Linked DNA regions of Homo sapiens: regions 1 and 2 are each linked to region 3. The links come from fine-mapping of genetic effects on gene expression. A gene starts in region 3. Each other region holds a variant in brackets. All regions are shown on one strand. Distances are between the middles of the regions.

Region 1 (10,357 bases), 68 kb after region 3:
TACATTGAAGATCAGGCTTAGTGACTTCTCCCAAAAATGTTATTTGTTGTAAATAAATTATTATATAAAAACATTAAATTAGCTGGGCTTGGTGTACTCCTCTAGTCCCAGCTGCTCTGGTGGCTGAAGTGGGAGAATTGATTGAGCCTAGGAGTTCAAGGTTACAATGAGCTATGATAACTCCACTGCACTCTAGCCCAGGCAACAGAGTGAGACCGTGTCTCTTAAAAAACAAAATAGGCTGGGCGTGGTGGCTCATGCCTGTAATCCCAGCACTTTGGGAGGCCGAGGTGGGTGGATCACAAGGTCAGGAGATCGAGACCATCCTTGCTAACATGGTGAAACCCCGTCTCTACTAAAAATACAAAAAATTAGCCAGGTGTGGTGGCGGGCACCTGTAATCCCAGCTACTCAGAGAGGCTGAGACCGGAGAATGGCATGAACCCAGGAGGCAGAGCTTGCAGTGAGCCAAGATTGTGCCACTGCACTCCAGCCTGGGTGACAGTGTGAGACTCCATCTCAAAAAAAAAAAAAGGCCAGGTGCAGTGGCTCACGCCTGTAATCCCAGCACTTTGGGAGGCCGAGGCGGGCAGATCACAAGGTCAGGAGATTGAGACCATCCTGGCTAACATGGTGAAACCCCGTCTCTACTAAAAATACCAAAAAAAAAAAAAAAAAAAATTAGCCGGGCGTGCTGGTGGGCGCCTATAGTCCCAGCTACTCGGGAGACTGAGGCAGGAGAATGGCATGAACCCAGGAGGCGGAGGTTGCAGTGAGCCGAGATCGCGCCACTGCACTCCAGCCTGGGCGACAGAGCAAGACTCTCTCAAAACAACAACAAAAAAAACGAAAACAAAAGGCGGGGTGCTGTGGCTCACGCCTGTAATCCCAACACTTTGGGAGGCTGAGTTGGGTGGATCACTTGAAGCCAGGAGTTCAAGACCACCCTGGCCAACATGGTGAAACCTCATCTCTGCTAAAAGTACAAAAATTAGCTGGGCCTCCCAGGATCAAGCGATTCTCCTTCCTTAGCCTCCCAAGTGGCTGGGATTATAGGCGTGAGCTACCACGTCTGTCTCTTTTCTTTTTTTTTTGAAACAGAGTTTCACTTTTATTGCCCAGACTGGAGTCCAGTGGCACAATCTAGGCCCATTGCAACCTCTGTCTCCCAGGTTCAAGCGATTCTCCTGCCTCAGCTTCACAAGCAGCTGGGATTGCGGGCGCGCCATCCCACCCAGCTAATTTTTTGTATTTTTAGTAGAGATGGGGTTTCACCATGTTGTCCAGGCTAGTCTTGGAACTCCTGACCTCAGGTGACCCACCTGCCTTCGCCTCCCAAAGTGTTGGGATTACAGGTGTGAGCCACCGCACCCAGCCCTTTTTTGTTTTGTTTTTTTTTTTAAACAGGATATCCTTTTGCCAGTCCTGACATAGTTTGTTAAGAGAGACAAACCTATCCATTAAAATCTCCTGTATTAAAAGCATGGTCTCTGGAGCCATACTCTCATATTAGCTGTGTGACTTTGGACAAATTACTTAACCTCTCTGTTCCTCAGTTTCCTTATCTGTAAAATAGGAATAATGATACACTTATTGCATATGGTTGTTTTGAGGATTAAAAGAGTTAATTGGTGGCCGGGCTCCCAGCACTTTGGGAGGCTGAGGCAGGCGGATCACGAGGTCAGGAGATCGAGACCAGCCTGGCTAACATGGTGAAACCCTGTCTCTACTGAAAATACAAAAAATTAGCCAGGCGTGGTGGCACACACCTGTAGTCCCAGCTACTCAGGAGGCTGAGGCAGGAGAATCGCTTGAACCCGGGAGGCGCAGGTTGCAGTGAGCCGAGATTGCGCCCCTGTACTCCAGCCTAGGCAACAGAGCAAGACTCTGTCTCAAGAAAAAAAAAAGTTAATCGGTATAAAGCACTTAAAATAGTCTGTGGCCACATAGGCAGTGTTACGGAAATGTTTGCTTACACTTATTTTTGTTTCTGTCTTCATTTAAGGAGCCGTGTAAAGCCAGTGGAATATAGTCAGATGTACAGTTATAGCTACAACCAGTATTATCAGCAGTACCAGAACTACTATGCTCAGTGGGGCTATGACCAGAACACAGGCAGCTACAGCTACAGTTACCCCCAGTATGGCTATACCCAGAGCACCATGCAGGTAACCATGACTTGGCAAGACTGGTCCCCTTGGGTTGTGTTTCTCCTCTAGAAACAGGTCATTCTCTAGGATGGGATTGGTAAGGACAGGGGCTTGGGCTTCAGAAAAAATAGGGAAAGTTGAAGCAGTCCAGTTCCTCTTGTTAAAAATAAGCCATTGTGGGTAGGGCCCAGTGGCTCACACCTGTAATCCTAGCACTTTGAGAGGCCGAGGCAGGTAGATCACCTGAGGTCAGGAGTTCAAAACCAGCCTGGCCAACATGGTGAAACCCTGTATCTACTAAAAATACAAAAAATTAGCTGGGCATAGTGGCAGGCGCCTATAATCCCAGCTGCTCAGGAGACTGAGGCAGGAGAATCTCTTGAAACTGGGATGCGGGTGTTGCAGTGAGCCGAGATCACGCCACTACACTCTAGTCTGGGTGACAGAGCTAGACTCCACCTCAAAAAAAATAAAAAATATAAGCCACTGTGGTCCTGGGCCAGGATTTCACCATGCCCCTAACCCACATCTCTGGTCTCTTGGCAGACATATGAAGAAGTTGGAGATGATGCATTGGAAGGTAAGGGTTCATACGTTCCTTACTCTGTCAGCCATTATCAGGTGACTGCTGTGGCTGGCACTGTGCTCTCAGCTAGAGGGAAGACAAGATAAATTCTGCTCTGGAAGAACTTACATTCTGGTTAGAGAGCCAGACAAATATGTAATTATGGTAAGATGTGTCGGGTGTTACCCAGAGGTGTAAGTGTAGATCCCAGAGAGCCTGGGACAGGCAGCTCCAGGAGAGCCCATCACCCCCTTGACATGTGGCATTCTATCCTGGTATGTGGGCCTCTAACGATAATACTGTTACCCTTTTTTTGTGTGTGTGTGTGGTGGAGTTTCACTCTTGTTGGCCAGGCTGGAGTGCAATGGCATGATCTCAGTTCACCGCAACCTCCACCTGCCAGGTTCAAGCAATTCTCCTGCCTCAGCCTCCCGAGTAGCTGGGATTACGGGCATGCACCACCATGCCCAGCTAATTATTTTGTATTTTTAGTAGAGACAGGGTTTCTCCATGTTGGCTTGGCCGGTCTCAAACTCTCAGCCTTAGGTGATCCGCCCGCCTCAGCCTCCCAAAGTGCTGGGATTACAGGCATGAGCCACTGTGCCTGGCCGATAATACTGTTACCTTTTATTTGTTTGACTGTTTGTAAAATTCATTTTTTATTTATTTTATTTTTTTTCTGTTTTTCAATATATTTTAAAAGACATATTTTCCTGATTTTTAAGTCATCGTTAGGATGGAAAATTTGGAAAATATAGTAAAGTATGGGCCAGGCATGGTGGCTCACGCCTCTAATCCCAGCACTTTGGGAGGCCGAGGCAGGTGGATTGTGAGGTCAGGAAATCGAGACCATCCTGGCTAACACGGTGAAACCCCGTCTCTACTAAAAAATAGAAAAAATTAGCCGGGTGTGGTGATGGGCGCCTGTAGTCCCAGCTACTCGGGAGGCTGAGGCAGGAGAATGGCGTGAACCCGGGAGGCAGAGCTTGCAGTGAGCCGAGATCGCACCAATGGGCTCCAGCCTGGGAGACAGAGCGAGACTCCGTCTCAAAAAAAAAGAAAAAGAAAATATAGTAAAGTATAATGAAACTGAAAATCACCCCATATCCTATTACAACATAGTAATAGCCATTATTAATTTTTTCTTTTTCTTTTTTTTTTTTTTTTGAGGCAGAGTCTTGCTGTGTCACCCAGACTGGAATGCAGTGGCGCAATCTCATCTCACTGCAAGCCCGCCTCCCGGGTGCAAGTGATTCTCCTGCCTCAGCCTCCCGAAGAGCTGGGATTTCAGGCACATGCCACCACGCCCAGCTAATTTTTGTATTCTTAGTAGAGACGGGGTTTCACCATCTTGGCCAGGCTAGTCTCAAACTCGACCTCGTGATCCGCCTGCCTCGCCTCCCAAAGTGCTGGGATTACAGGGGTGAGCCACCGTGCCCAGCCCATTATTAATTTTTTAATTAAAAATATTTAAGCCTTGCACGGTGGCTCACCCCTGTAATCCCAGCCCTTTGGGAGGCCAAGGAGGGTGAATCATGAGGTTAAGAGATCGAGACCATCTTGGCCAACATGGTGAAACCCCGTCTCTACTAAAAATAAAAAAATTGCCAGGCGCGGTGGCTCACCCCTGTACTCCCAGCACTTTGGGAAGCCACGGCGGGAGGATCACCTAAGGTCGGAAGTTCTAGACCAGCCTGGCCAACATGGTGAAATTCTGCCGGTACTAAAAATAAAAAAATTAGCCAGGCGTGGTGTTGCGCGCCTATAATCTCACCTCCTCAGGAGGCTGAGGCAGGAGAATCACTTGAACCCGGGAGGCGGAAGTTGCAGTGAGTCGAGATCATACCACTGTACTCCAGCCTGGGCAACAGTGCAAGACTCTGTCTCAAAAAAAAAAAAAAATTATCCAGGCATGGTGGCCCATGCCTGTAATTCCAGCTCCTTGGGAGGCTGAAGCAGGAGACTCACTTGAACCCGGGAGATGGAGGTTTCGGTGAGCCAAGAATGCTCCATTGCAGTCCATCCTGGGTGACGAGAGTGAAACTCCGTCTCAAAAAAAAAAACAACAGTATTTACTGTCTAGGCACGGTGGCTAAAGCCTGTAAGGTCTTTGGAAGGCCAACGTGGGTTGGAGGATGGCTTGAGCCTAGAACTTTGAGACCAGCCTGGGCAACATAACGAGACCCCATCTCT[T/C]TTTTTTTTTTTTTTTTTGGGAGACGGAGTCTTGCTCTGTCACCCAGGCTGGAGTGCAGTGGTGCAGTCTCCAATCTCAGCTCATTGCAACCTCTGCCTCCCAGGTTCAAGTGATTCTCCTGCCTCAGCCTCCTGAGTAGCTGGGATTACAGGCATGCACCACCACGCTCGGCTAATTTTTGTATTTTTAGTAGAGACAGGGTTTCAGCATGTTGGCCAGGCTGGTTTCGAACTCCTTACCTCAAGTAATCCTCCCGCCTCAGCCTCCCAAAGTGCTTTGATTACAGGCATGAGCCACTGTGCCCGGCCAAGTATTTATAATTTTCACTGAATTTCACAGAAGAAAAAGGAAAGAAAAACTGAAAGCCAAGCATGGTGGCCTGTGGTTCCAGCTACTTGGGGGAGGCTGAGGCAGGAGGATTGCTTGGGCCCAGGAGGTTGAGGCTTCAGTGAGCTGTGACTACAGTTGTGCCCCACCATAACTGGCTATTTTTTTCTATTTTTTTGTAGAGGCAGGGTTTCACCATGTTGCCCAGGCTGGTCTTGAACTCCTAGGTTCAAGTGATCTGCCCATCTCGGCCTTCCAAAGTGCTGGCATTATAGGCATGAGCCACTGCTCCTGGCCAAAACTTTTTTTGAGGTACAAAAAGACTCAAAGTTTGAAATCTGTTTTGAGGATTCGTCTTCAAGAGAAAGTCATAGGGAAAATGTTTTCTGTCAAGAAAATGTTCGTTAAAGGAAACAGATCCCTTTTAGGGCATGAACAAACTTGTCTAGTTCATAACATTTTAAAGCACTTTCTTGTGTCCTCTCATGTGATGCCAACTGTAGTGACCTTGTGGGGTGGGCTGGGAAGGACACAGGAGCTCCATTTCACAGATGGGAAACTAGTGGCTCGGAAAGCCCAAGTGATCTGCTGAGGGTCACACAGTGTGGGGCAAAGTCAGGACAGTCCGGTCTTTTTATATTCAAGTCTCTAGTTGTTTCCCCCTGGGAGACATTGCCTTCTTTCTAGAGATAATTAGCCTCATAATATCTGTAGATAAGTCCTTAGAATTTTCCAATCTCTTTTTAATCCTTTTTTTGTTTTCTTTTTCTTGAGAGTCTTGCTCTGTCACCAGGCTGGAGTTCAGTGGCACGATCTCGACCCACTGTAACCTCTGCCTCACAGGTTCAAGCGATTCCCCTGCCTCATCCTCCTGAATAGCTGGGACTACAGATGCGCGCCACCACGCCCAGCTAATTTTTGTATTTTTAGTAAAGATGGGGTTTCACCATGTTGGCCATGATGGTCTCTATCTTTTGACCTCATGATCCGCCCGCCTCTGCCTCCCAATGCTGGGATTACAGGTGTGAACCACTGCGCCAGGCCCAATGTTTTTTTTTGTTTTTTTTTTTTTTGAGACGGTGTCTCACTCTTGTTGCCCAGGCTGGAGTGCAGTGGCGCGATCTCAGCTCACTGCAACCTCCGCCTCCCGGGTTCAAGTGATTCTTCTGCCTCAGCCTCCCGAGTAGCTGGGATTACAGGCATGCGCCATCATGCCCAGCTAATTTTCTTTTTTTCTTTTTTTGAGACGGAGTCTTGCTCTGTCGCCCAGGCTGGAGTGCAGTGGCGCAATCTCGCATGCCCAGCTAATTTTCTATTTCTATTTTTCTAACCCCATAAAGATGGGGTTTCTATGTTGGTCAGGCTGGTCTCAAACTTCTGACCTCAGGTGGTCCGCCCACCTTGGCCTCCCAAAGTGCTGGGATTACAGGCTTGAGCCACTGCGCCTGGCTTTTTTTTTTTTTTTTTTTTTTGAGATAGAGTCTTTGCTCTGTCGCCAGGCTGGAGTGCAGTGGTGCCATCTCTGTTCACTGCAACCTCTGCCTCCCGGGTTCAGGTGATTCTCCTGCCTCAGCCTCCCGAGTAGCTGGGACTACAGGCGTGCACTGCCATACCCGGCTAATTTTTTGTATTTGAGTAGAGACAGGGTTTCACCATGTTGCCCAGGATGGTCTCAATCCCTTGACCTTGTGATCTGCCCACCTCGGCCTCCCAAAGTGCTGGGTTTACAGGCATGAGCCACAGTGCCCAGTTTTTTTTTTTTTTTGAGACAGAGTCTCACTTTGTTGCCCAGACTTGAGATCAGTGATGTGAACATGCCTCACTGCAGCCTCGACCTCCTAGGCTCAAGTGATCCTCCTGCCTCAGCCTCCCTAGTAGCTGGCACTACAGACACAGGTCACCATGCCCAGCTAATTTTTTTTTTTTTTTTGAGATGGCATCTTGCTCTGTTGCCCAGGCTGGAGTGCAATGGCGTGATCTCGGCTCACTGCAACCTCCGCCTCCCGGGTTCAAGCGATTCTCCTGCCTCAGCCTCCCGAGTAGCTGGGACTACAGGTGCCTGCCACCACGCCCAGCTAATTTTTCTATTTTTAGTGGAGACGGGGTTTCACCATGTTGGCCAGGATGGTCTCGATCTCTTGACCTTGTGATCTGCCTGCCTTGGCCTCCCAAAGTGCTGGGATTACAGGCGTGAGCCACCGCGCCCGGCCGAGACGGGGTTTTGCTCTTGTTGCCCAGGCTGGAATGCAGTGGTGCCATCTCGGCTCACCGCAACCTCCACCTCCTGGGTTCAAGCAATTCTCCTGCCTCAGCCTCCCGAGTAGTTGGGATTATAGGCATGTGCCACCATGCCCGGCTCATTTTGTATTTTTAGTAGAGATGGGATTTCTCCATGTTGGTCAGGCTGGTCTTGAACTCCCGACTTCTGGTGATCTGCCCGCCTCGACCTGCTGAAGTGCTGGGATTATGGGCATGAGCCACTGTGCAGAAAAAATTTTTAATAGTATTTTACCACCAGGGACAGGGACTCATGCCTGTAATCTCAGTACTTTGGGAGGCTAAGGCGGGAGGATCACTTTAACCTAAGAGTTCAAGGCTGCTGTGAGCTGTAAGTGTGCCACTGTACTCTAGCCTGTGTGACAGAGCAAGACCCTTTCTCTAAAGTACATACACACACACATACATACATACAGGACTTGGCCTTTCAGCTCCTATATTTGACTGAAGTTCTTCCACTATGCACTTATTGTCAGTTCTTGAGATGATGCTCTGGACTTAATAACTTTGATCAGACCTTCTAAACCCAAATTTGAAGTGAGGACCAGACCAGAAAATCTAGGATACATGATGGCTAGAGACACAGGTGTAGCTTTTAATAGATGCAGGCTAACAGCTGCCATTTTCCCATTCTCTAGATACATTATTCTATTTTCATCTTCCCCAGAACCCTGCAAGGCAGTGCTTTCACTTCCTGAAAGAAACTGGCAGGATAGGGACCTTACCATAGAACAGAGTTCTGGGAGAAGGGAACTGAACCAGGTCCCTTGCAGCTGTCCCTAGACTTCCCTGACCCCATCCTTGCTTGCTTTCCAGACCCCATGCCACAGCTGGATGTGACTGAGGCCAACAAGGAGTTCATGGAACAGAGTGAGGAGCTGTATGACGCTCTGATGGACTGTCACTGGCAGCCCCTGGACACAGTGTCTTCAGAGATCCCTGCCATGATGTAGCCAGGCCAAAGGACAAGCCAGGTTGCATGATGTGAGGGAGATGAGAGACTCCTTTTTAAAAATTGTGAAACCTTTTTGGAAATATGATTTGTAAGATTTTAATAATGACTGTTTTTGGAGATCATGAATGTTTCTACAACACTGCTGCATTCATTTGACCATTTGAGTTTGAAGACCAAGGGAACAACTTTTAAACAAGGTTCAAATTGGTTTCCTTCACAGGAATCCTTTGTCCAGGTAGTTATCCACATAGGACAGTTTGGGATTATCCAAAACTGGGATGAGCAGCTTGGGATAATTCACACACTAAAGCCTGAGTTCAAGGTTTCTCAGTTGACAGGTAGGTATGTAAATCAGGGTTCTCTGGAGTATTTGTAGGACCTGCCATATTTGAGTCCTAACTTGGTGCAAGTCTGGCAGCTAGGTAGAAAAGGCACTCTAGCAGGTGTGGTAGGAGCACGCCCCAGAAGGTAGAATGTGGTGGGGTGTGATGGAACAGGCCAGTTGGCCTAAGAATTAGTACTTGCTCTAATAATGGGTTTCATCTATTTTCATGAGTTGCAGCATCTGCATATACAAGGCCTGGATCACTTTAGGATCAATATTTTGACACGGGAGAAGGCAGCTCAGAAAGGATTAAGGAAGATAGCTCAAAGCCAAAGCAGACCCTCCGTGTGAACTTTATACTGCTCACTTCCGTGTTTCCCAAGTAAATGGGGAAACTGTCCAACCTTGTCATGTGTTGGGACTTACTGCTTGAGGCAAAGCATTCATCCTACATCATAAAAAATCTCCAAAGATCTCTTTAAGGGCTGGGCATGGTGGCTCACTTTGGGAGATGGATTGCTTGAGCTCGGGAAGAGACCAGTTCGGTCTCTACAAAAAAATACAAACACAAATATACTTTTATTAGTCTTTTTATTCTTCTTTTATTGATCACCTCTGAAGTTCAGTAGCACACTGCATAATTTTTTGCATTAGCATGCTGTTGTTTCTACCTAAAATGACCGGGGTCCTTGCCTTCTGCTTCCCATAGAGATTGTCCTGCAAAGGAAGTGTAAGCCATTGTGTTACTAATTCCCAGATTTCCCCCACCCAGACATTTTCCTAGGAGCTGGTCTCAGTCCCATATCCGCATTTCTCATCCATGGATGTCCACTCAAATTAGGTTTCATCCTGGACCAGTCATTCTAAATACAGTGTGTGCTACATGGAACCCCTTGTTTCTACCCCACTCTCAACTCTCCCTAATGCTGAGAGACGTCCCACCAAAGAATGCATCATGAGCTCCAGCCACCACTGAACATTTGTGGCTACCAGGCCTTGTGGCCCACGGTGCCCTCTGATGCCTTCAATGCATTTTAGGGTGGGTAAATCATGTTCTAACCATCTTTGCCCTCTGGTAATGAATAGCTAAGGGCACACGAGGGAGGCCAAATGTAAATGTTACTAAGATGCTAAGACTTTCTGGCCCGGCACAGTGGTTCATGCCTGTAATCCTAGCACTTTGGTAGGCCAAGGCAGGCAGATCACTTGGGGTCAGGAGTTCAAGACTGCCCTGGGCAACGTGGTGAAACCCTGTCTCTACTAAAAATACAAAAATTAGCCAGACATAGTGGTGCGTGCTTATAGTCCCAGCTACTCAGGAGGCTGAGGCAGGAGAATCACTTGAACCTGGGAGGCAATTAGCCAAGATTGTGCCACTGCACTCCAGCCTGGGTGACAGAAAGACCCTGTCTCAAAAAAAAAAAAAAAAAAAGCTGTAACTTTGACACAGACCTAAGTAACCTTATAGTTCTATTAGGTTGACTACTTAGGACAGGATCCCAGATAGTTGAGCACTACCTGCAGCTACACACCAAGTTGTGACAAAGCTTTGGGTAGTCACTAA
Region 2 (10,357 bases), 34 kb before region 3:
CCTTCCATAAGCATTAATGAGTCTAGTAGATAAAAGGATGATTCTGTAGATGCCAGTGGAATTTGGGATTCAGTGTCTGGCATAGTTATCTTCACAGGGAACTGCAGAAGCTATTACTTAAATTGTTCTGATAAAATCATGTTTTATCTTGGGAGAATTAAGAATGCTATTCTTATGTTAAAATAAGTGATGGTAGAGAAAGCAGGGAATATAATCAGTAAAATTTGTATGGGTTTAGTAAATTTTTTGCATTTACCCAAAGTTCTATTTAAGTCTACTTTCTTTATATAAATGCACAATTTCTTAGAAGAATTTTCAAGAAAGGGAGAGGAAAGCTAATGAGTGCTTCAAAGCTAATAAAAATATAGTTTTTTCAGGAAAAATGATACTAGGCTTAGTATTGCTTAAAGTTCTTGTTCACGATTGAACGAATGAATAAAAACTATACTCATTAAATATTTAATATCACCATGTTGGGTGGAGTGATTCAAACCTTGAAAAACAGGCTTAGAATATTTTATGAGTATGACAGTTTGGAGTAGCTTGATGAAAACAGGATGAAGTTGTTATTACCACCACTTTGGATGGATAGTGTCATGTTGACTTATCTGTGAGGAACTTGGGGAGCTTTCACATACTTATTTTCAAAACTACCTTGTGCTGCAGGAAACCAATTTTATCTTTTCCATAGGTAGGGCAATTAGAACATGAAGACATTGTGACTCATTCAAGGTTGTAGGCCAGGCGCAGTGGCTCATGCCTGTAATCCCAGCACTTTGGGAGGCAGAGGCGGGTGGATCACCTGAGGTCAGGAGTTCAAGACCAGCCTGGCCAACATGGTGAAACGCCATCTCTACTAAAAATACAAAAAATTAGCCGGGCATGGTGGTAGGCACCTGTAATCCCAGCTACTCGGGAGGCTGAAGCAGGAGAATTGCTTGCACGTGGGAAGCAGACGTTGCAGTGAGCTGAGATTGTGCCACTGCATTGCAGCCTGAGCAACAAGAGCAAAACTCCATCTCAAAAAAAAAGAAGAAGGTTGTAGTTAGTGAAAGATAGAAACTGAACATAGGCTTTTCAACTCTCAGGTCCAGACCTCTGTTCCTTACAGTAGTGTTTGCAAACTGGTGTTCTCCTCAGGATCACCTAGAAAGCTTATGATAACAGACTGCTGGACACTACCCGTAGAGTTTCTGATTTTAGTAAGCCTGGGATGGGCTTGAGAATTTGCCTTTCTAATAGGTTCCCAGATGACACTGATGCTGCTCTCCAGGGAGCACACATTAAGAGCCTCTGCTCTACACCAGTGGCATACCACCCTTTTCAAGTTAAGGCAACATATAAAATGATAATTTGTGTATGATACCCTGGACTAAACTGCAGAGCTCATTCTTAGCTTGAGGTAAATAGCCCAAAACAATAGACCTTGTAACTGAGGAATCAGTATTAGTCCATGAGGGGTCCTCAACAAAAGAAGAAAAATAGAACAGTTCACAGAGCATTTCTTAGAGCTAAATAGATTTAATTTAAAGGACTCTCTTTTATTCTAAAATTACAACCTTCCTAATCCTTTGGTGTTAAAATGCCATTTCTTTCACAAAAGGATTATGATCATAAATGGTTTACTTAATATCAAGCCTTATTTGGAAATCTTAGAAAATGACAACCTCAAAAAAACACTAGAAAAAAAACCAACAATCTGAGGTTGATCAAGATTTTTGTTATTGTTTTGGTCACTGAAATCCAAAAGTTTGGAAATCATTGCTTCAGAAGTACTACTGTCTTCTCATCCATATAACATGGAGTATTACGACTAAGGAAAAACCACCAGCAATAGCTGAACGGGTGAAAGGGAATTATTACCCATCCCAGAAACACTCTGAAATTTTTCCACAGAACTACAGCCAGATGCTGTTGTCAGGGTATATATACCAGAATTTACTTCCTTAACATATATGCCTTCCTCAAATTACCAAATAGAATTTATTTTATTAATTCAAAAGTAAAAATATTCATTTATGGTCTCATCAGGAATGAGTTTTGTTGTAGATGGAATAGCTAACAGCTATTTTTAGAGAATCAGCAAAAATCCAATCTTTCCAAAAATATCTCTTTCACTGCTCCTAAAATTCACATTTTTAGAATCTTTTTGTGTGTGTATGCAGTGTTTTTCTAGAAAGCCTTTTTTAAAATTTATTTATGGGGCCAGGCATGGTGGCTCATGCCTGTAATCCCAGCACTTCGGGAGGCCGAGGTGGGCAGATCGCTTGAGGCCCAGAGTTTGAGACCAGCCTGGGCAACATGGTGAAACCCCATCTCTACTAAAAATACAAAAAATGATCTGGGTATGATGGTGCATGCCTATAATCCCAGCTACTCAGGAGGCTGAGGCAGGAGAGAATCACTTGAACCCGGGAAGTGGCGGTTGCAGTGAGCCAAAATTGCACCACTGTACTCCAACCTAGGCAACAGAGCGAGACTCTGTCTCAAAAAAAAAAAAATTATTTATGATGAGAGACATTAAAACATTACAAAATTAGGCCAGGCACAGTGGCTCAATGCCTATAATCCCAGCATTTGGGGAGGCCGAGGTGGGAAGATCACTTGAGGCCAGGAGTTCAAGACCAGCCTGAGCAACGTAGCAAGACCCCATCTCTATAAAATATTTAAAAATTAGCTGGGCATGGTGACATGTGCCTGTAATTCTAGCTACTTGGGAGATTGAGGTAAGAGGATTGGGTAAGCACAGGAGTTCAAGGCTGCAGTGAGTTATGATTGCACCACTGCACTCTAGCCTGGGTAACAGAGCAACATCCTGTCTCTAAAAAAAAAGAAAAGGCTAGGTACAGTGGCTCACACCTGTAGTACCAACACTTTGGGAGGCTGAGGCAGGTAGATTACCTGAGCCCAGGAGTTTGAGACCAGCCTAGGCAACATGGAGAAACCCATCTCTACAAAAAATACCCCCCCCAAAAATTAGCCGGGCATGGTGGCACATGCCTATGGTCCCAGCTACTTGGGAGGCTGAGGTGGGAGGATCACCTGAGCCCAGGGAGGTCAAAATTGCAGTGAGCCGTGACTGCGCCACTGCACTCCAGTGACACAGTGTGAGACCCTGTCTAAAATAAATTAATTTAATTTAAAAATAAAAATAAATTTAAAAAGAAAAGAGGCTGGGTGTGGTGGCTCACATCCATAATCCCAGCACTTTGGGAGGCTGAGATAGGTGTATCACTGGAGCCCAGGACCTCAAGACCAGCCTGGGCAGCATAGTGAGACCTTGTCTCTACTAAAAATTAAAAAAATTAGTCAGGCATGGGGGCATGGGCCTGTAGTCCTAGCTACTTGGGAGGCTGTAGCAAGAGGATCACTTGAACCCAGGAGATCGAGGCTGCAGTGAGCTATTGTTCATGCCACTGCACTCCAGTCTGGGCAACAGAGGGAGACCTTGTCTCAAAAGAAAAAAAAAAAAAGAATTATAAAATTAGCTAGCCTTGGCCGGGCAAAGCGGACATGCCTGTAATCCCAGCACTTTGGGAGGCCGAGGCGGGTGGATCACCTGAGGTCGGGAGTTCAAGACCAGCCTGACCAACATGGAGAAACCCCATCTCTACTAAAAATACAAAAAATTAGCCGGGCGTGGTGGCACATGCCTGTAATCCCAGCTACTCAGGAGGCTGAGGTAGGAGAATCACTTGAACCCAGGAGGTGGAGGTTGCAGTTAGCCGAGATGGCGCCATTGCACTCCAGCCTGGGCAACGAGTGAAACTCCATCTCAAAAAAGAAAAAAATAATTAGCTAGCCTTTTACTTTGAACATCTCCAATTTTGGAGATTTAGGACAAATACAGTTTTATTTAAGGGAAGTTTTTGAGAGTGTTTGAGAATACTGAGTGGGATGAAACTAAAGGGTTTGAGTAGAAGGTTAGAGGTTGGTGATCAAAAGAACTACTTTTTTTTTTTTTTTCCTGTCAGCAGGGAAAAAATAACTACCCTTTAATTACTTTACCAGTTTTACTCCTGTGTGATCTGATGATCCACTTCTTACAGGTCATCTGGAGCCCTCCAAAGGGACTTTGCTGAAACAACACCAACACCTTTGCTGAGTCATTGTGGGCTTTGGTGAAACTATAGGAATATATACTGTCATGATACAGGGTGAAGGCTTCTCATCTAATAAACATATATTGAGGGTCCACTAGATGCCAGGTACTGTGCACAGCCCTGTGGATGATATGTTGATGGAGACAAGGTTGCCCTGCCATCAAGGAGCCCATGATATAGTGGAGAGTGAACATGGGAAGCTGAGGTGCAAAGGGAACATAAGAGGTGTGCATACCAATAAAAATTAGAGACAGTAGGCCGGGCGCGGTGGCTCACGACTGTAATCCCAGCACTTTGGGAGGCCGAGGCGGGCGGATCACGAGGTCAGGAGATTGAGACCATCCTGGCTAACATGATGAAACCCCGTCTTTACTAAAAATACACAAAAAATTAGCCGGGAGTGGTGGTGGGCGCCTGTAGTCCCAGCTACTTGGGAGGCTGAGGCAGGCGAATGGTGTGAACCCGGGAGGCAGAGCTTGCAGTGAGCCGAGATGGCACCACTGCACTCCAGCCTGGGCGACAAGACTCCGTCTCAAAAAAAAAAAAAAATTAGAGACAGTAGGATGCAGTCAAATAGTCAGAGACTTGGATACCAGCTGAGTCCATGCCAGTTTGTAGTATGATCTTGGGCAAAGTCACCTAGCTTCTGTGGCCTTGCCTTTTCCTTCTGAAAAATGGTAAAGATGCTATATTTTTTCCCCTGTC[A/T]CCTCAGGTGGTATAAGGAGAATATGACTTCAAGGACAAAAAACACTTTGATTTCTTCAAAGGACTTTGCAATTGCTATAAAAATTCAAGATGTCAGTATTGACAGTTTTATAACACAGAGCTAAGATATCTAGATACCATTATCAGGATATGGTAACAATACCCACTAATACTTATTTTATGCTATCTGAATGTTTAAATTTTTTAATGGAGTACTGTTATACAAAATAACTTTTTTTTTTTTGAGTCAGAGTCTTGTGCTGTCCAGCCTGGAGTGCAGTGGCATGACCTTGACTCACTGCAGCCTCCGCCTCCCAGGTTCAAGAGATTCTCGTGCCTCAGCCTCTCCTGAGTAGCTGGGATTATAGGTGCCCACCACCACACCTAGCTAATTTTTGTAATTTTTTTTTTTTTTTTTTAGTAGAGACGGGGTTTCACCATGTTGGCCAGGCTGGTCTCGAACTCCTGACCTAAGTAATCTGCCCACCTCGGCCTCCCAAAGTATTGGGATTACAGGTGTGAGCCACCGTGCCAGCCACAAGATAACTTTTTATCAGATTTTTTTTGTCTCTATTCATATTAACTACACCAAGATCAAGTTACAAAAAGTTGTCAGCCGGGTGCCATGGCTCACGCCTGTAATCCCAACACTTTGAGAGGCCAAGGCAGGTGGATCATTTGAGGTCAGGAGTTCGAGACCAGCCTGGCCAACATGGTGAAAGCCCGCCTCTACTAAAAATACAAAAATTAGCCGGGCCGTAGTGGCGTGCGCCTGTAATCTCAGCTACTTGGTAGACTGAGGCAGGAGTATCGCTTGAGCCCGGGAGGCAGAGGTTGCGGTAAGCCAAGATCGCGCCACTGCACTCCAGTCTGGGCGAGAGAGTGAGACCCTGTCTCAAAAAAAAAAAAAAAAAAAAAATTGTCATATCTGTTGCCATAGCAATGAAGTAAGCTACTCATCAGTCTTCCTACACCTCTGTACATTTATTAAGCCTTCTATTTGAATAAATATAAACTTCATTTCAGGATAAAATATATAGGGAATGGCAAAACTATGAAATTATTTAACTTGCTTAAAAGATTAAAACTGAACTCAACTTTAATTCTAGGCCCTGGGCCGGCCCTTCAAAGCATTGGAAAGTCGTGAAATTGATGTGTTGCTCTCTCTTTTCCAGCTGAACTGTCCCAAGCAATAAACAGTGGTACATTGTTATCAAAACCGTCCCCACCCTTACCACCTAAGAGAGGCATTCCATCAACCTCAGTACCCACCTTGGAGTCTGCTGCTGCCATCACCACAAAAACACCAAGTGATGAAAGAGAGAAGAGCACGTGTTCTATGGGCTCGGAACTACTACCAATGATCTCACCTCGCTCTCCGTCCCCCCCACTGCCTACTCATATACCTCCAGAGCCTCCACGCACCCCTCCATTCCCTGCTAAGACTTTTCAAGTTGTGCCAGAAATTGAGTTTCCACCATCCTTAGATCTACACCAGGAGATTCCCCAGCAGGAAGATCAGAAAAAGGAAGTCCCCAAGAGGATACTGGACCAGAACTTTGGGGAGCCCCATATACCCTCTAGGCTGCCTCCACTCCCACTGCATATTCGAATCCAGCAGGCCCTCACCAGCCCACTTCCCATGACTCCTATTCTGGAGGGTTCTCACAGAGCTCATTCGTTGCTTTTTGAAAACAGTGACAGCTTTTCTGAGGACAGCAGTACGCTGGGTCGGACCAGGTCTCTTCCCATCACTATTGAAATGCTAAAAGTGTAAGTGCCTTTAAAGCTTGCCTCTTATTTCTCCTTTACTCTAGATAGCCCTGCTTGGAAAAAATTACTTATAAAAAGAAAATGTGGGCCGGGCCTAGTGGCCCACACCTGTAAGCCCAGCACTTTGGGAAGCTGAGGCAAATGGACCGATCACCTGAGGTCAGGAGTTCAAGACCAGCCTGGCCAATACAGTAAAACCCTGTCTCGATGAAAATAACAAAAATTGGCCAGGCGTGGTGGCACATACCTGTAATCCCAGCTACTCGGGAGGCTGAGGCAGGAGAATCGCTTTAACAGGGAGGTGGAGGTTGCAGTGAGCCAAGACTGTGCCACTGTACTCCAGCCTGGGCGACAAAGCGAGTCTCTGTCTCACAGAAAAAAAGAAAATGTGAATAATTTTTTTTTTTCCGAGATGGAGTCCTGCTCTGTCACCCGGGCTGGAGTGCAGTGGCACGATCTCCGCTCACTGTAACCTCTGCCGCCCAGGTTCAAGCGATTCTCCTGCCTCAGCCTCCCGAGTAGCTGAGACTACAGGCATGTGCCACCACATTCGGCTGATTTTTGTATTTTTAGTGGAGATGGGGTTTCAACATGTTGGCCAGGCTGGTCTCGAACTCCTGACCTCAGGTGATCCACCTGCATCGGTCTCACAAAGTGCTGGGATTGCAAGTGTGAGCCACCGCGCCCAGCATTGTGAATAAATTTAAAGTACAAAGAATACTCTGCCAAAAGAATAAGTTATAGAATTTGGACTCTTTCTTTTTTTAATCTTACCTTAAAACTTTATTTTTATTTATTTATTTATTTATTTATGTTTGAGACAGGTTCTCACTCTCTCACTCAAGCTGGAGTCAGTGGTGCAGTCTTGGCTCACTGCAACCTCCATCTCCTGGGCTCAAGCAATTCTCCCTCCTCAGCCTCCCGAGTAACTGTGACTACAGGCGCATGCCATCACACCCAGCTAATTTTTATATTTTTTGTTAGAGATGGGATTTTGCCATGTTGCCCAGGCTCACCCTGAACTCCTGGGCTCAAGCAGTCTGCCTGCCTCAACCTCCCAGAATGCTGGGATCATGGGTGTGAGCCACTGCGCCTGGCCAAATTTTGATTTTTTACTCTTGTGATTTTTTTTTTTTCATGGAGATTTTTGTGATGACACAAAATTTACAAAATTATGTACATGAAAAATTACAACCGCTAGTTTTATATACTACAGGGAAGGCATTGTATAATGTTGTGCTTAAGAGCATTCACCTTGGAGTGAGATAGCCCTGGGTTCAAATTGCAGCACTACCACTCTTAGCTTATAGTAGTGTTAAGTTACTGAAGCCTTCTGCTCTTTAGTTATATCATCTCTAAATGGGAATAATATTTACTCTGTAGGCTTGTGAGAATGACATTAGACAAATTCTGGAAAGCACCAGTGCCTAATAAGTGGTAAAGCTGGGATCTGAACCCTTAGATTAATACCTGCTAAAAAGTTTCTTAGTAAGATTGTTAAAGTTAAGGGAGAGAATTAATTATAAGTTACTTCATCCATAGATTTTTTTGTATTTATGGTTATTTCAGTCCTTTGTCTTTTTTTTTTTTTTGAGATAGAATCTCACTCTTGTCACCCAGGCTGGAATGTAGTGGCACAATCTCGGTTCACTTCAACCTCTGCCTCCTGGGTTCAAGAGATTCTCCTGCCTCAGCCTCTCAAGTAGCTGGGATTACAGGCACCTGCCACCATGCCAGGCTAATTTTTGTATTTTTAGTAGACACAGGGTTTCACCATGTTGGCCAGGCTGGTCTCAAACTCCTGACCTCAGGTGAATTTGCCCACCTCCATCTCCCAAAGTGCTGGGATTACAGCCATGAGCCACCACGCCCAGTCTTTATTTCAGTCCTTTGTCTTAAAAGTCAGTTATCCTCTTCATTTCTAAAAGGAAAATATAATTATGTTAATTTGTTAGTCCAGACGATGAAGAAGAAGAGGAGCAAACCTGTCCATCCACATTCAGTGAAGAAATGACACCTACCTCAGTCATTCCTAAATTACCACAGTGTCTACGGGAGGAAGAAGAGAAGGAGAGCGACTCTGATTCAGAAGGTCCCATTCAGTACCGAGATGAAGAAGATGAAGATGAAAGCTATCAGAGTAAGAAAGGGAGGGAAAAGCAAAACAGAGAATTCTTTTCCAGATAAAACTATTTGCTGATCTTAGCAAGTGTCAAAAGAGATATGGAAACAGGTACCTTCTCCCATTAAGTCATCTGGCTAACTGATGTTGGAAGCCACTGTGAAGGACTCCTTGTCCCTATTATCACCCCTCTGTTAAAACAAGCCAAGACAGGGATCCAAGTAGATTGAGTCACTCAGGTTTTAGGTTTTTTGTTTTTTTTTGTTTTAATTTTTTTTTTTTTTTTTGGACAAGGTTTTGATCTGTCACCCAGCTGGAGTACAGTGGTGCAATCGTCGCTCACTGTAGCCTCCAACTCCTGGACTTAAGTGATCCTTACGCCTCAACCTCCCAAATAGCTAGGACAGATGTGTGCCACAACTGGTTAGGTTTCTTTGATTTTTTGTTTTGTTTTTTGTTTTTGTAGAGACAGGGTCTCGTTAGGTTGCCTAGCCTGTTCTTTTTTTTTTTTTTTGAGACGGAGTTTTGCTCTTGTTGCCCAGGCTGGAGTGCAATGGTGCGATCTCGGCTCAGTTTAACCTCCACCTCCCAGGTTCAAGCAATTCTCCTGTCTCAGCCTCCCAAGTAGCTGGGATTACAGGCATGTGCCACCACACCTGGCTAATTTTGTATTTTTAGTAGAGATGGGGCTTCACCATGTTGGTCAGACTGGTCTCAAACTCCCGACCTCAGGTGATCTGCCTGCCTCGGCCTCCCAAAGTGCTGGGATTATAGGTGTCAGCCACCGTGCCTGGCCATAAAAGATATATATATAATTTTTTTTTTTTTTTTAGACAGAGTCTTGCTCTGTCATCCAGACTGGAGTGCAGGGGCACGATCTCAACTCACTGCAACCTCCACCTCCCGGGTTCAAGCAATTCTCCTGCCTCAGCCTCCCAAGTAGCTGGGATTACAGGCGTCTGCCACTAGGCCCAGCTAATTTTTTTTTATTTTTAGTAGAGGCGGCGCTTCACTGTGTTGGCCAGGCTGGTCTCGAACTCGACCTCGTGATCCGCCCACCTCCCACAGTGCTGAGATTATAGGTGTGAGCCACTGTGCCCAGCTGCCCAGGCTGTTATTGAACTCCTGACCTCATGTGATCCCCCTGCCTTGACCTCCCAAAGCTCTAGGATTACAGGCATGAGCCACCGTGCCTAGCCTATTTTTAATTTTTATAGATATATAATAGTAATATATATTTATGGGGTACATGAGATATTTTGATATAAGCATGTGTGTATGGGTAATTAGGCTATCCATCTCAAGCACTTATCATTTGTTTGTATTGGGATTATTCCAAATCTACCTTTCTGGTTATCTTGAAATATACAATGAATTATTGTTAACTATAGTCACCCTATTGTGCCACCGAACACTAGATCTTATTCCTTTTTTTTTGAGACAGTGTCTCACTCTGCAGGCTAGAGTGCAGTGGCACAATCTCAGCTCAATGGAACCTCCACTTCCTGGCTCAAGCAATGCTCCAACCTCAGCCTCCCAAGTAGCTGAGAACACAGGTGTGAGCCACCACGCCCAGCTCATTTTTGTATTTTTTTATAGAGACAGCGTTTCACCATGTTGCCCAGGCTGGTCTCGAACTTGTGAGCTCAAAGTG
Region 3 (10,357 bases):
CCCAGGAAAAGGCAGGTCCAGCCCGGTGCAGTGATGCACACCTGTAGTCCCAGCAGCTTGGGAAGCTGAGGTGGAAGGATCAGTTGAGCCCAGGAGTTCAATACCAGCCTGGGCAACATAGACCTTGTCTCTTGAAAAAAGAGGAGCAGGTCCAATGGACACTGAATAGGCAAAGGATGAAATAATAAGCATAAAAAGATGACAATGTGCAACAAAGAAAATCCTATCCTTGAAGCCAAAATACAGCCAGCACCACTGTTTCAACGTTCTATTCCATTTCAGCCCTAGGAGGCATGAAGGGAAAACCAGGAATGACCAGCAACCCAGACCTCTTGCTCCATCTGTCATTTTGTGTGGATATTGTTAATTTCTTCCCCAAAGAATTTTGCCTCCTATGTAGAGCATAGAGGTCATCTGACAGGAACAAACAGCTTTAATGTTCCTTCATTTGGCACTGAGGACACACAGTCCTCAGTGAGGATTGTGGGAGGGGGAGCATTAAATAAATTATTTAATGCTTACCTCCTTCCTACCCTCACCCGCAACAAAGACACAATCTTCCCGTGACCCCAATTTCTCTTCAATCTATTACCCTCTCTCCTGCTTTTCCTATACTCCCTTCACACAATCTATTCCAATGTTAAACAACCCAAGTTCTCAGGCCAGGCAGCTGGGCTAAATGATTGACAGAGGAAGAACTAGTGATGGAGATGTAAACTGAACAGGCTTCTTGGCCTTGCTTCATAACCTCTGGTCTGTGCACATTGTTTTCCCTACCTAAGGCCATATTCACTCAGCTCATTAAAATCTAAACGAAATCCAAACCAATATGGCTTTCCTGTGGTCACCAGGGATTTCTCAGCCTTCGGTTATTGCACTTGGCTGCTTTGCAACATTTGGTGCTTTGGACAATGTTCTAGTCCTCAAAACTCTTCTTCCTTGGCTTCTGAGGCACCGCTGTCTTCTGGTTCTCCTTCCCTGACTGACCTTTCTCTGTGCTGCTGGCTTCTTCCTCGAACACCATTTAAATGCTGGGTTTTCGGCCAGGTGCGATGGTTCACGCCTGTAATCCCAGTACTTTGGGAGGCCGAGGCAGGTGGTTCACCTGAGGTCAGGAGTTCGAGACCAACCTGGCCAACATGGTGAAACCCCATCTCTACTAAAACTACAAAAAAATTAGCTGGGTGTGGTGGCATGTGCCTGTAGTCCCAGGTACTTGGGAGGCTGAGGCACGAGAATTGCTTGAACCCGGGAGGCAGAGGTTGCAGTGAGCCAAGATCACAACACTGCACTCCAGCCTGGGTGACAAGAGTGAGACTCCATCCAAAAATAAATGAATAAAATAAAATAAATGAATGCTGTGTTTTACCGGGTGTGGTGGCTCATGCCTGTGATCCCAGCACTTTCGGAGGCCAAGATTGGCAGATCGCTTCAGGCCAGGAGTTCAAGACCAGCCCGGGCAGTATAGTGAGAGGCCATCTCTACCAAAAATTTAAAAAATTAGCTGAGCATGGTGGTGCATGCCTCTAGTTCCCGTTACTCAGAAGAGGCTGAGGTGAGAGAATCGTTTCAGCCCTGGTGGTCCAGGCTGCAGTAGTCCTGATCACACCACTGCATTCCAACCTCAACAACAGAGCGAGATCTTGTCTCAAAATAAAATAAATGCTGGGGTTTCATGTCTTCCCATCACTCTCCTCATTCTTCCAAGACGACTTTAGCCACCATGCTAATTCTTACAACTTCTAAATATTTTATCACCAACTCAGATTTCTTACAGGAAGCCCAACCCCATATATCTAATTGCTCTTTGGACTTATATACAACCAGATGTTACTCAGGTAACTCGTATATACTCCAATGTGGACATTACTCCTCCCCCACTGCCTGCATTTCCACTTATCAAGGTTAGAGACCATAGTATGTTCAGCCTCCTAAGCCTGAAACTCTGGTATCCTCAAGTTCTTCTCTTACCTTGCAATTCCAGTGGGACGACAAACCCTACATCAGAAATGTCTTTTTTTTTTTTTTTTTTTTTTTTTTTTGAGATAGGTTCTTGCTCTGTTGCCCAGGCTGGAGTGCAGTGGCATGATCACGACTCACTGCAGCCTCCATCTCCTGGGCTCAGGTGATCCTCACACCTCATAAGTAGCTAGGATTACAGGAATGTGCCACTACACTCAGCTAACATTTTTTTTAAAATTTTGTAGGCCGGGGTCGGGCGCAGTGGCTCAAGCCTGTAATCCCAGCACTTTGGGAGGCCGAGGCAGGTGGATCATGAGGTCAGGGGTTCAAGACCAGCCTGACCAACATGCTGAAAACCCGTCTCTACTAAAAATACAAAAATTAGCTGGGCATGGTGGCGGGCGCCTGTAATCCCAGCTACTCAGGAGGCTGAGGCAGGAGAATTGCTTGAACCTGAGAGGCGGAGGTTGCAGTGAGCCGAGATCGCACCACTACACTCCAGCCTGGGGGACAGAGTGAGACTTCATCTAAAAAAAAAAAAAAATTTGTAGGCCGGGCACGGTGGCTCATGCCTGTAATCCCAGCACTTTGGGAGGTCAAGGCGGGCAGATCACGTGGTCAGGAGTTCAAGACCACCCTGGCCAATATGGTGAAACCCCGTCTCTACTGAAAATACAAAAATTGGTGGGGCATGGTGACACTTGCTTGCAGTCCCAGCTACTCGGGAGGCTGAGGCAGGAGAATTGCTTGAACCCAGGAGGCAGAGAATGCAGTGAGCCAAGATCGAGCCACTGCACTCCAGCCTGGGCAACAGAGCAAGACTCCATCTCAAAAAAAAAAAAAAAAAGAATTGCTGCGATAGTAAATAATGTACGTAATAAAGCATTCAGAACAAAATCTAATATGTAGGAGGAACACCATAAACGTTACTACTCAAGATAGCCCAGCTGTGATAGCTCTGTCTCTCTAGCCAACGTTTTTCCACCTTACACCACACTAAAAATTCCATCATATTTGCAACATTTCTTATGTATATATATCGTAAGCATTCTTTACTTGCCTACTTCATATTCAGAGGGTTTTGTGTGTGGTAAAATATACATAAAACTTGCCATTTTTAACTAGTTTAAAATGTATAGGGGGCCAGGTGTGGTGGCTCAGGCCTGTAATCCCAGTACTTTGGGAGGCCAAGGCGGGCATCACTTGAGGTGAGGAGTTCGAGAGCAGCCTGGCCAACATGGTGAAACCCGGTCTCTACTAAAAATACAAAAATTAGCCGGGCATGGTGGCATGCCTATAGTCCCAGCTACTCGGGAGGCTGAGGCAGGAGAACTGGTTGAACCTGGGAGGTGGAGGTTGCAGTGAGCCGAGATCACACCACTTCCTTCCAGCCTGGGCGACAGAGCGAGACTCCGTCTCAAAAAAAAAAAAAAAAAAAAAGTCCAGGTGCGCTGGCTCATGCCTGTAATCTCAGCACTTTGGAGGCCGAGGCGGGTGGATTGCTTGAGGTCAGGAGTTCGAGACCAGCCTGGCCAAGATGGTGAAACCCCGTCTTGCTAAAAATACAAAAATTAGCCAGGCACGGTGGCGGGCGCCTGTAATCCCAGCTACTGGGGAGGCCGAGGCAGGAGAATCGCTTGAACCCGGGAGGCCGGGGTTGCAGTGAGCCGAGACCGCGCCATTCCACTCTAGCCTGGGTGACAGAGCAAAACTCCATCTCGAAAAAAAAAGAAAGAGTATAGGGCAGTGCTTTTAATTACATTCATTCACACTGTTGTGCAATGGAGTTTTTTATTTTTTATTTTTATTTATTTTTATCCGGGCCAGGCCTGGAGTTTTTAAACTTTTATCTGATTCGTCTAGGGGCACTTTCATCTTATTTACCTTCACATTTATCAAATTATTTCTTTCACAGGTGACAGAGCAGATTCAATTCCTTTTGATACTCCGTATTTCTCTATATGTATTTTTTTCATTCTGCATTCTTATTATTCCAACGTTTTACTTATTTATTTGGAGAGAGAGTTTCGCTCTGTCGACCAGGATGGAGTGCATCGGCGCGATCTCGGCTCACTGCAACCACCGCCTCCCAGGTTCAAACGATTCTCATGCTTCAGCCTCCCGAGTAGCTGGGACTGGAGGTGCGCGGCACCATGCCTGGCTTATGTTCTGTATTTTTTGTAGAGACGGGGTTTCGCCATGATGCCCAGGCCGGTCTCGAACTCCTGGCCTCAAGCGATCCGCCCCTCACGGCCTTCAGAGCTGCTGTAATCACAGGCGTGAGCCACCGCGTTCGACTCTTCCAAAAACTTTTTGGCCAGTTTATCTAAGGGCATATCCTACAGACTGAGTCCAGTGATTGCACAGAAGTAAACGTCCTCTGCAGCTACATACCTACAAACCTATTTCTGTAACGTACATTCCCCAGCAAGGTCCCGCGGGAAGGATCCACTACCGCGAGAGGCCTCCCAGCCAGGAAGGGGTGGGGCTCAATCTGCAGTAGATTCCCAGAAGCCTCAGTGAGTTTCTGATTCTCTAACTGCGCATGCTTCTGCGCACGCGCAATAGACATTCCAGGACTTCCGGGCACTTCGTAAGGTTTAAAAAGGATGCTTCGCGTTTTCTCTCTCCTTTTTGGAGACAGATTCGCAGTGGTCGCTTCTTCTCCTTGGTAAGTGTGATCCTTGGTAAGTGTGATCAGATGCTTGCCACCGGAGTTGTGGGTCTAATGCTATAGATCAGTAGCCGAGCTTCCCTAGGAAGATCATATAGTATTTTATTTATTTACTTTTTTTTTTTTTTTGAGACGGAGTCGGTTTGTCACTCAGGCTGGACTGCAGTGCTCGTTGCAACCTCCGCCTGCCGGGTTCAAGCGATTCTCGTGCCTCAGCCTCTCCAGCAGCTGGGATTACAGGCACGTGCCACCACGCCCGGCCAATTTTTGTATTCTTAGTGGAGACGGGGTTTCGCTATGTTGGTCAGGCTGGTTTTGAACTCCTGATTTCCGGTGATCCACCACCCTCGGCCTTCCAAAGTGCTGGGATTACAGGCGTGAGCCACCGCGCCTGGCCGGAAATCATGTAATTTAAAACTATATATGGGTGTCTTAGGCGGCATCGGTCCCAACTCTAAAGTACGCGTTAGACGGGCCTGGGCCAGAAGTGGGCCATGGAGACCTCGGGACCCGCAGGGCTGCCGCCCGACCCAGCGAGCCTCTGAAGGTGCACCGCCACCCCCACTGTTTATCTTACTGCCTCATAGTAGGCACATTGTCGTTCTCAATATAATTGCACACAGTTTTATTCTGGATCCTCATTTGCCTTTAAGAATTTTCTCAATTTTTCTTTTTATTTGATCGCACCACTGCAACCTCCGCCTGCTGGGCTCAAGCAATTCTCCTGCCGCAGCCTCCCGAGTAGCTGGGACTACAGGCGTGTACCACCGCGCCTGGCTTATTTTTGTATTTTTAGTAGAGACGGGATTTCACCATGTTGGCCAGGCTGGTCTCCAACGCCTGACCTTGTGGTCCGCCACGCCAGGCCGAAGATTTTCATAATTTGGAAGCATTGCGTTTCGTAATTATGCTTTCTCGTATTTTTGTGATTTGGGTCATTTTTATTTTTATATTTTTAGGATTACAGGCGTGAGCCATCGTGCCTGGCCGATTTGGGGGTAATTAACAAGTCCACGTGTTTCATTTGAATTTAGGATAGCTGGGCCTAATTGTTGTCTTTGCTTCTGCGGTACCTTCCACATAGTACTAACCGCCTATTGTAAAGTAATTAGAATAGCTGAATATGCATGTTACCAGTCTAGAAACCGATTTTTTTTTAACACCCCACTGTGGACAGGGTGGAAACTCGTTTGCTTTCTTGTTTAAGATCTGTAGTAACATGAATGGATGAAATTGTTTCCTATTGGATTCTGTAAATTTATGCGTTACACTGATTGTCCAACGTGGATACACCCGGGAGGTCACTCTCCCCGGGCTCTGTCCAAGTGGCGTAGGGGAGCATAGGGCTCTGCCCCATGATGTACAAGTCCCTTTCCACAACGTTGGAAATAAAGCTGGGCCTCGTGTCTGCGCCTGCATATTCCTACAGCTTCCCAGAGTCCTGTCGACAATTACTGGGGAGACAAACCATGCAGGAAACAGCCTTCTAGAGCACTGAATCTGGATTGAAGTCTTTTTTTTTTTTTTTTTTTTTGGAGATGGAGTCGCTCTGTTGCCCAGGCTGGAGTGCAGTGGCGCACTCCATTGCCTCTGCCTCCCGGGTTCAAGTGATTATGCTAAGTGATTCTCCTGCCTTGGCCTCCTGAGTAGCTGGGATTACAGGCCCCCGCCACCACGCCAGGCTAATTTTTGTATTTTTAGTAAAGACAGGGTTTCACCATGTTGGTCAGGCTGGTCTCAAACTCCTGACCTTGTGATCCGCCAGCCTCTGGCCTCCCAAAATGTTGGGATTACAGGCGTGAGCCACCACACCTGGCTGGATTGAAGTCTTAATACATGTTTAAGAAAAATTGGCTAAAAAGTAGCCAGGCATGATGATAGGTAGCTGGAGGAAGGAGAATCGCTGGAGCCCAGGAGTGACCTATACTCAAACCTATACTCCAGTGCCACTGTACTCCAACCCCAGGCGATAGCATGAGGCCCCTCGTTGAAAAAGTTTAGGGTTTTGCTGTACTAATAGATTAATATCTTGTTTTGCAGGATTTGTTAAGGATTCCAAGTAACTCTTATTTGGTGAGTAAATCTGCTAATTGTTTTTTGCTTATCAGCTCTTTGTCAATGATTTCTGTAATGGAAATAGGATTGAAGAGACTTTTATTCTAGTTGGTCAGGATTTACCTCTGAGGCATTTAATCATTCTCAGAGCAATAGCCAAATATCGACTTTGCTGCATTTTTGTAGGCATGTTGACATAACTTCAACATATGCTCTGTTCTGTAAAAATTGCTTTTTTTAGTCAGCTCATTAAAAGTGCAAAGTAGTAAAAGCTGCCCTAGTGAACTGTAGGAAGCCTAATTGGCTTTATCTACATGTGTAGCCTGAGCTGAGAAAGATACTAGCCCTTGAAAATACTGTGGGTGATTAGCAATATTGGATTTGTCGGTTACTCCAATTCCTCACTAATGAGCATTCCAACGTGGATACCCTGGGAGGTCACTCTCCCCAGGCTCTGTCCAAGTGGCATAGGGGAGCTTAGGGCTCTGCCCCATGATGTACAGTCCCTTTCCACAACGTTGAAGATGAAGCTGGGCCTCGTGTCTGCGCCTGCATATTCCTACAGCTTCCCAGAGTCCTGTGGACAATGACTGGGGAGACAAACCATGCAGGAAACATATCTAGTATACTAGATTTTAAGTTGAAGTAGGATCTTCAGGAGTCTAATCATTATTTCTTTTCTTTTAGGAGAGAAGACGATCTGCACTTCGCATTTTGGCATTGACATTTAATTTTAGGGTCCTTTATATAGAAGGGAGAGTAGGTAAACTGATTTTTTTTTTTAACAGGGAGGGTTTGACAATCTTTGGCAGACTTGGAGCAAAAGATTGAGGTGCATTTCATGCCTCCTTTTGAGAGTCTTGCTCTGTCGCCCAGGCTGTAGTGCAGTGGCGCAATCTTGGCTGCAACCTCAGCCTCCCAAGTAGCTGGGATTACAAACATAAGCCACCACGCCCAGCCCTCATACCTCTTTTAAAAGTCGACCTGTTTTGCAGAAAGTCTGCTGTTTTTGTACTAAAGGCTTTGGAATTTGGCATTTAGCTAGGAATGCACATTCTTTCACCTCATTCATACTTTAAGAACCACAGAAGTGACTCTGCTTGGCCAGAAGGCACACTGTGTTGGTGGTTATATTAAAAGTCCTTGAGTATTTTGCTTTTCATGATCTTGCTCACTGCAACTTCCGCCTCCCAGGTTCAGGCGATTCTCCTGCCTCAGCCTCCCAAGTAGCTGCGACTACAGGCGTGTAGCACCACACCTGGCTAATTTTTGTATTTTTAGTAGAGATGAGGTTTCACCATATTGGCCAGGCTGTTCTCAACTCCTGACCTCGTGATCCGCCCACCTCAGCCTCCTAAAGTGCTGGGATTACAGCTGTGAGCCACCCTGCCCGGCCACTTTTGTATGATTTCTAATGTATTTGTAATTTACCTAACAAATTGCCTAATCTGCTATGTTAATGTATTTATGAATTAAAATAAATACGACTGCATGTTTGTGGTTCATTTTTGTGGAGGTGGCTGTGGTGACATCAGCCAAGAATCTGAATGGTACTGTTGAAGGAAACTAGCATGATAGCTTCAGTTCTAAAGGCCCTGAAACCTAGTCTCAGGTGGGTCCCCCTTGGGTTCACTTTATATTGGCAGTTTATTGGGAAAATGGATATTAGGTCCTGACCAATAGGACCGTAAGTCTGGGTTGAGTGCAAGATGAGTTAGACCGATTCTTTAGCTTCCTGCAGTGTAGTGGAGGAAAAATCGATGGTAGCAACGGGAGGTTGTATCCCTAGCTGATGAGTTGTATGAGCCTCTACTACCTGGCGCACCTCCGCCTGAAGATTGCCAGAATTGCTTGCCTCATGACGTGAGTCACAATGGAAACTTTGTCAAGCCCCCTGCACTGGCTGCCAACATAAATGTTCAGTACCCTGAAGGATGGGACTGAAGGGGGATCATCTAGAAGGTAAAGTTACCTACTGGCATAGGGGAGGTGGGACAGCCGTTAAGCCATTTGGAACTTGATGGAGACAGGTTTGAGGGAGGTGGGTGAGATTGGAGTTTGGTGGACTGTAGAGCTTGCTTGCCAAGGTGTTGAGGTCAGGGTTGGTTTGAGAATGGAAGCTAGTTACTAGCTATGATTGTGGGGGAACACAGCTTGATTTTTCTTACAAGCTAAGAGGAGTGAGGCAGTGTTTAAGAGGGCATGTTAAATGCAGCCAGGCTTGGTGGCTCACACCCGTAATCCCAGCACTTAGGCTAAGGCAGGCGGATCACAACATCTAGAGATCCTGGCCAACGCGGTGAAACCCTGTCTGTACTAAAAATACAAAATAACTGGGCATGGTGGTGTGCACCTGTGGGAGGCTGAGGCAGAATTGCTGGAACCCGGGAGATGGAGGTTGTACTGAGCTGAGACCTTGCCACTGCGCTCCAGCCTGGTGACAGAGTTAAGTCTCAAAAAAAAGGCATCTTCCTAAAGCAATTGTATTTGTGCTTACCTGTGCCAGGCACTGTTCTAGGTAAGCACTAAGTGGGCTTTAATACAGCATATTCCAATGGGGAATCCCAGGAACCAAAAGACTAATTGTCCAAGTCCACAACTAGAAGTGGCACCTCTGCAGAAACAAGCATCAAATTCCCTGCTCAGGAAGAAGCCAGATGAGTCAGCCCCATTCGTCTGTATGCCCAGTCCCATCCGTGTCCTGCTGTAACTACATAGATCTCACCTGAGTAAAGTGATTTTTTTCTGAACCAGTGGTTTTAGTATGTTTTCAATCCATATACTCAGGTGGGTTTGGGTAACTGCAGTGCTGGGCAGGAAATGAATGAATTTCTATTGACTTGCAAGGTAGAGGTGAAGCAAAGCTGTCAGTAGGTGTTCAGGTCCCACTCTGCTAAACTTCAGCTTGCAATACCCCTTTTTTAGACTTTCCAAACAGGCACTTCTGGCCTTGTTCTTTGTGTAGGCAGACAGTATTGGTTGCCTATCTTAGGAGTACTAGACTGGGTTTGAATCCTGATCCCACCACTTGCTGTTCATGAGACTTTGGGTGAGTTACTCAGCCCCTCTGCCTCAATTTCATGTTCACAAAATAAGTGATAAACTACCTCATAGAGTTGTAATAAGGACAAAGGAGTTGGTATTTGTGAAAAGATTCTTAGGGTCTCTAGATGGAGTGCAGCAGCATGATCACTTATTAAATAACATTCTTTTGTGACTTCTCAGAAACCAAGGATACAGTATCCAATTTTTTGTTTTTTGTTTTTTTTTTTTTTTGAGAGGGAGTCTCGCTCTGTCGCCCAGGCTGGAGTGCAGTGGCACAATCTCAGCTCACTGCAAGCTCAGCCTCCCCAGCAGCTGGGACTACAGGTGCACGCCGCCACACCCGGCTAATTTTTTTGTATTTTTAGTAGAGAAGGGGTTTCACCATGTTAGCCAGGAAGGTCTCCATCTCCTGACCTCGTGATCCGCCCACCTCGGCCTCCCAAAGTGCTGGGTTTACAGGCGTCAGCCACCATGCCCAGCTTTTTTTTTTTTGAGATCTAATCTCACTCTGTCTCCAGGAGGGAGTGCAATGGAGCCATCTTGGCTTGCTGCAACCTCCACCTCCCGGGTTCCAGCAATTCTCCCACCTCAGCCTCCCAAGTAGCTGGGATTACAGGCGCA

The links.
Region 1: its variant is fine-mapped to the expression of RCC1 in whole blood (INTERVAL, PIP 0.96).
Region 2: its variant is fine-mapped to the expression of RCC1 in whole blood (TOPMed, PIP 0.95).

Annotation. Positions count from the first base shown.
Region 1 is chr1:28,569,171-28,579,527 of GRCh38, forward strand. It overlaps TRNAU1AP (tRNA selenocysteine 1 associated protein 1), which reads left to right. Exons shown (of 9, transcript NM_017846.5): 7 at 2,006-2,168; 8 at 2,697-2,730; 9 at 8,330-9,375. The coding sequence ends at 8,466. It overlaps SNHG12 (small nucleolar RNA host gene 12), which reads right to left. Exons shown (of 6, transcript NR_146382.1): 6 at 9,368-9,510. It overlaps SNORD99 (small nucleolar RNA, C/D box 99), which reads right to left and starts at 9,652; the gene lies at 9,573-9,652. The variant T/C (reference allele first, on the strand shown) is at 4,909.
Region 2 is chr1:28,467,571-28,477,927 of GRCh38, forward strand. It overlaps PHACTR4 (phosphatase and actin regulator 4), which reads left to right. Exons shown (of 14, transcript NM_001048183.3): 7 at 5,984-6,581; 8 at 8,537-8,721. Among named protein-coding and RNA genes, the nearest start is that of SNHG3, 33 kb to the right of the region's middle. The variant A/T (reference allele first, on the strand shown) is at 4,809.
Region 3 is chr1:28,501,452-28,511,808 of GRCh38, forward strand. It overlaps RCC1 (regulator of chromosome condensation 1), which reads left to right and starts at 4,592. Exons shown (of 13, transcript NM_001381865.2): 1 at 4,592-4,633; 2 at 6,677-6,709; 3 at 7,379-7,454. SNHG3 (small nucleolar RNA host gene 3) reads left to right here and starts at 4,492. Exons shown (of 4, transcript NR_036473.1): 1 at 4,492-4,633; 2 at 4,769-4,876; 3 at 6,677-6,709; 4 at 7,379-9,441. SNORA73A (small nucleolar RNA, H/ACA box 73A) reads left to right here and starts at 5,914; the gene lies at 5,914-6,120. It overlaps SNORA73B (small nucleolar RNA, H/ACA box 73B), which reads left to right and starts at 7,107; the gene lies at 7,107-7,311. RefSeq lists enhancers at 5,406-5,700, 5,892-6,657, 8,190-8,955, 8,729-8,948, 9,809-9,858 and 1 more.